Linked DNA regions of Homo sapiens: region 2 is linked to region 1. Evidence: fine-mapped expression QTL. Tissue or cell type: sun-exposed skin. Region 1 holds a variant in brackets; the other region holds the start of a gene. All regions are shown on one strand. Distances are between the middles of the regions.

What was found. PIP is the estimated chance that this variant, and not a neighbour inherited with it, causes the effect.
Region 2: it holds the start of STRC, and the variant in region 1 is the best candidate, but not a certain one, in a credible set for the expression of STRC in sun-exposed skin (GTEx, PIP 0.58).

Annotation. Positions count from the first base shown.
Region 1 is chr15:43,721,460-43,724,299 of GRCh38, forward strand. No RefSeq gene overlaps it. Among named protein-coding and RNA genes, the nearest start is that of PDIA3, 24 kb to the right of the region's middle. The variant T/G (reference allele first, on the strand shown) is at 1,423.
Region 2 is chr15:43,617,518-43,620,017 of GRCh38, forward strand. It overlaps STRC (stereocilin), which reads right to left and starts at 1,283. Exons shown (of 29, transcript NM_153700.2): 1 at 1,142-1,283; 2 at 54-839. The coding sequence starts at 1,205.

The DNA.
Region 1 (2,840 bases):
AAAAATTAGCTGGGCATGGTGGCATGTGCCTGTAGTCCCAGCTACTCGGGAGGCTGAGGCAGAAGAATCGCTTGAAACCGGAAGGCAGAGGTTGCACTGAGCCAAGATCCCACCACTGCACTCCAGCCTGGGCAACAAGAGGGAAACTCTATCTCAAAAAAAAAAAAACAACAAAAAAGAACAGATGCCTCCTTTTTTTTTTGAAACTGAGTCTCACTCTGATACCCAGGCTGCAGTGCAGTGATGTGATCTCAGCTCACTGCAACCTCCACCTCCTGGGTTCAAGCAATTCTCATGCTTCAGCCTCCTGAGTAGCTGGGATTATAGGTGTGTGCCACCACGTCCAGCTGATTTTTTGTGTTTTTAGTAGAGACAGGGTTTCCCCATGTTGCCCAGGCTGGTCTCAAACTCCTGGACTCAGGCAATTCACTTACTTCGGCTTCCCAAGTGCTTGGATTACAGGCGTGAACCACCATGCCCAGCCAGATGCCTCTCTTTGTAAAGTACAATTATTTTTCTCTTTTTTTGGTTTGGCTTTGGTAACTGAAATATTTATTGCTTACTAGATATCTAGGTGTTTTTCACATTTCCCAGGTCTCTTGCAGTTAGCTGGGCTCAGGTGATTAGTTCTGTTCAATGGACTGTGGTTGAACAAAGAATTTAAGAGCTAGCAAATGAGCCTCCAACAATCTCTTCCCTGTTGAGGCAACCTAGAAACCACATGTTGAGATGGCAGTGTCACAAGGTCAAAATAGCCCGAGGCTCCAAATTACCACAGCATTTACAGTCAGTCTTTGTCATTTGTGAGTTCTGTATTTGTGGATTTGCCTAGTCACTAAATGTTTGTAACCCAAAATCAATACTTACAGTGCTATTGAGGTCATTCACAGACTTGTATTGAGAGGTGACAAGTTGGAGTCACCTGATATACACGTTCCCAGCTGAGGTGGAACAAGGCAGTGCTCTGCCTTCTTGTTGCAGCTCTCATGGTGTAAATATTAGTGTCTTTTTTTTTTTTTTTTTTGAGACGGAGTCTTGCTGTGTCACCAGACTGGAGTGCAGTGGCGATCTCAGCTCACTGCAACCTCCGACCCCCTGGTTTAAGTGATTCTCCTCCCTCAGCCTCCCGAGTAGCTGGGATTACAGGCATGTGCCACCACCCCCAGCTATTTTTTGTATTTTTAGTAGAGACGGGGTTTTACCATGTTGGCCAGGATGGTCTCAATCTCCTGACCTCATGATCCGCCCACCTTGGCCTCCCAAAGTGCTGGGATTACAGGCGTGAGCCACCGCGCCCAGCCAGTGTCTTTTTTGAGCTCTATCTAGTGATGCACTTTTTGTGTTTTGGGGCTGTTTGTTGGTGATTTCACCGTTTAAAATGGCTCCTAAGCTTAATGCCAAAGTGTTGTGTGGTGTTCTTAA[T/G]AGCAAGAAGGCTGTAAAGTGCCTTATAGAGAAAATGTATGCTAGAAAAGCTTCATTCAGGCCAGGCACGGTGGCTCACGCCTGTAATCACAGCACTTCAGGAGGCAAAGGAGCGGCGGATTACTTGAGGCCAGGAGTTTAAGACCAGCCTGGCCAACATGGCAAAAAACCCATCTCTACTAAAAATACGAAAATTAGCCAGGTGTGGTGGCGTGTGACTGTAGTCCCAGTTACTTGGGAGGCTGAGGCACGAGAATCGCTTAAACCCAGGAGGCGGAGGTTGTAATGAGCAGAGACTGTGCCACTGCACTGCAGCTTGGGCGACAGAGTGATACTCCGTCTCAAAAACGTCAGAAGAGACTAATTTGAGTAATAATAGTAAAACTCCAGTCTCCTGCACAGCCAGCTCTGTGTGGGAAAAAGAAAGAAAGAGAGAAGGGGCAGGGGAGAGAGGGAGAGGGAAGGAAGGAAGGGAGAAAGGAAGAAAGGAAGGAAAGAAGGAAGGAAGGAAAGGAGGGAGGGAGGGAAAAAAGGAAGAAAAGAAAAAAAGAAAAGGGAAGAAAAGAAAAAGTCAAGAGGGTATATCTGTGTAGTGTTTTGGGGGAAAAGGGAAGGAGGGAATATTCATCAAATACCTATGAAGCAGTGCCTTATGAATCTTTTTTTTTTTTGCAACCTCTGCCAGCCAGGTTCAAGCTATTTTCCTGCCTCAGCCTCCTGAGTAGCTGGGATTACAGGCGCCTTACACCGCCCCCAGCTAATTTTTGTAGTTTTACTAGAGACAGGGTTTCACCATGTTGGCCAGGCTGGTCTTGAACTCCTGACCTCATGATTCACCTGCCTCGGCCTCCCAAAGTGCTGGGATTACAGGCGTGAGCCACCACACCCGGCTGTTCTGAATCTTTTATGTGCAGCTACATCACCTGATTCAATAGGCCTGGGGAATGGGGCCTGAGATTCTTTTTCCTTTTTTTTGGTTGGAGTTCAGTGGTGTGATCTCAGCTTACTGCAACCTCCACCTCCCGGGTTCAAGCAATGCTCCTGCCTCAGCCTCCTGAGTAGCTGGGATTACAGGTGTGTGCCACCACGCCCAGCTGATTTTTGTATTTTTAGTAGGGACAGGGTTTCACCATGTTGGTCAGGCTGGTCTGGAACTCCTGACCTCGTGATCCACCCACCTCTGCCTCCCAAAGTGCTGGGATTACAGGCGTGAGCCACCATGCCCGGCCTCTATACTTATTTTTTTAATTATTTTTTAGTCTCTTGCTAGTGAGAGATTCTACACTTCTAACAAATGACCAGATGAGGCCAATTCTGCTCATCTTCAGGCCACACTTTGAGCAAAACTATTCAAGAGCATCTCCTTTGTGGATAATATATGTAAGATTTATGATATAATGCTTCCTTATTCTGTTTTA
Region 2 (2,500 bases), 100 kb before region 1:
ATTTCACTTTCCTTGCCCTGCCACATCCCAGTCCCAGCCCTGGCCACACTCACCTCCCTGGCACTGCCCATTGGTATCAGGCTCTGGCTGCCCCAAAATGGAGAAGACCTCATCCTGCAGGGAGTGAGTGACACGGAGCAGCCCCTCCTGAAAGGCAGCATAGAGGGGGGCCCCCACTGTGCGTAGCAGACCGCCCCAAAGAGCCTCCTTGGAGCCTAGCTCCCCTGTTGGGGTAAGCAAACCCAACAGACCCTGCAAAAAGTGAGGAGCTGCCTCCCTCCCATCGAGGCCTGTGGCATTGGTGGGGTCCACACTGGGCTGCACCTGCACCAGAGCTTGCCAGCGTGTGCCCTCTAACAACAGCAGCAGAGAAGGCAACCAGTCAGCAGCCAGGACACAGTCAGACGGCCCATCACGGGTGCATGGGGGCCGAGTTGGGGTAGGGGGGCCCCCAGGAACTAAGGCTCCCAGCAGCACCTCCACAAGTCCACCCAGCACCCCTGCCTGGTGCACCAGGAAATCTCGGGGAGTCTGCTCCTGTCCCAGCAGTGCCAGCATATCCCCTAGCAGCCCTAGCATTGGCTCCCAGTCGGGGCTACCTCTCAGTGTCACTAGAAAATCATGGAGCCGCAGAGCAGGCGGCTGGAGAGGTGGGGGCTCTCCTACTGGTCCTTCCCCCATTCTCCCAGGCTCAAAGGAAGAAGAAATGTTGGCCAGGAATGTAAAGAACCGTGAGCGGCTCAGGGAGCCCTGGGGAGCCTGGTCCAGAGTGGAGAGCAATGACTTCAGGAAGGAGAGACCAGGGTCCAGGGAATGAGGCCCAGTAGGGGCCAGAGTCACTGTAAGGAGAGAAACCAGAGGTCACTGAAGGAGAGGAACACAGAGCCCAAACTCAACCCTGCCCCTGAGCACAGTTCCCTACCTGGATCTAAAGATGAGGTGAGGGGATGGTGAGCTGAACCCCTTTCACTGGCCTACAGTAAGTCTTGGCCTGCTTTTCTTAACCCTCATTTTTCCCTTTTGCACAAGTCTCTGCCTCTCTCCTTTGTCCTTCTATCTAACAGGTTCACCTCCATATTCTTAAAGTCTTTTTCCAGCCACCCTCCTCCTCATCCCCAGTTCTGCTCACTGTTCTTCTTACCTGCAAAGGACAGCAGCAGCAGCAGCAGCAGCAGCAGCAGCAGGGGCCAGAGGCTGAGAGCCATGTTTCCAAGTGAACACTGGTACCGGAGGTGAGTTCTGGTTATTCTCACCTGTGTGGGATAGCCAGGTGAGGGCAGGGCACTGCAGGCAACCTGAGGCTCCACTGACACTGTAGTGTGGTCTTTCAGGAAACAATATGTGTAACCTGACAGCAGGTTTGTTACCTGAGCCGCTGAATATCTGATCCTTTAGCTCTGGAGAAGGGTATGCTTCTGTGAGAGGGACTAATGATAGGGGATCCCAGGGGCCCCTCAGAGAAACCCAAGGAGATTGCTTGAGTTAGGAGCCAGTGATGCAGAAAGGAACAGGCAGACATGGAGATGGAGAACTGGAGACCAGGGGTGTAATCTGGGGTTCTGCAGAAGCAAAGAAAACAAAGAGGATATGAAGGAGCTAAGAAGCAAGTAGGATTTGAGGAAATTGAAGAAGAAATGACGCCCAGGAGAAACAAACTGCACAGCAAGGTATAAACAGACGAGAGGTCCAGTCCAAGGATGGAGAATTCAGGAAGAGGAGAGCTGCTTTCAACTACTACCCAGAACCACAGAGTGTCAAGAGCTGAGCAGTACCCCAGAGATCACATACACCAAACTTTTTCACTTATGGATAAGGAAACAGACCCAGAGAAATGTGATTTGCTCATTAGGCCATTCAAATGTTTGGGTCTTTCCTTCCCCCTCCGGGATCCCCTATCATTTGGTTCTTTCTCTGTGGCCTAGGTGAAAGCCCTATCAAAAACTCTGAGCTGAGAAGACAGAAACCAGATTAAATCACTATGCACAGGGACTGATCTCCCTACACACAGAACTGCTCATGGAACAGAGAAAGAGATTTCATTCAAAATAATCTGGTCTGGTCAGGGTTAGAAGTCTTTTTTCGTCATTTTTGTTTTTTGTTTTATTGGTTTTTTGGTTTTGGTTTTTTTGAGATGGAATCTCTCTCTGTTGCCCAGGCTGGAGTTCAGTGGGGCTATCTGACCACTGCAACCCCTGCCTCCTGGGTTCAAGCGATTTTCCTGCCTCAGCCTCCCAAGTAGCTGGGATTACAGGCACGTGCCACCACACCCAGCTAATTTTTGTATTTTTAGTAGAGATGGGGTTTCACCATGTTGGCCAGGCAGGTCTTGAACTCCTGACCTCAAGTGATCTGCCCACCTCAGCCTCCCAAAGTGCTGGGGTTACAGGTGTGAGCCACCGCGGCATTTTTTTTTTTTTTTTTGAGATGGAGTCTCACTCTGTTACCCAGGCTGGAGTGCAGTGGCACTATCTTGGCTCACTGCAATTTCTGCCTCCTTCAT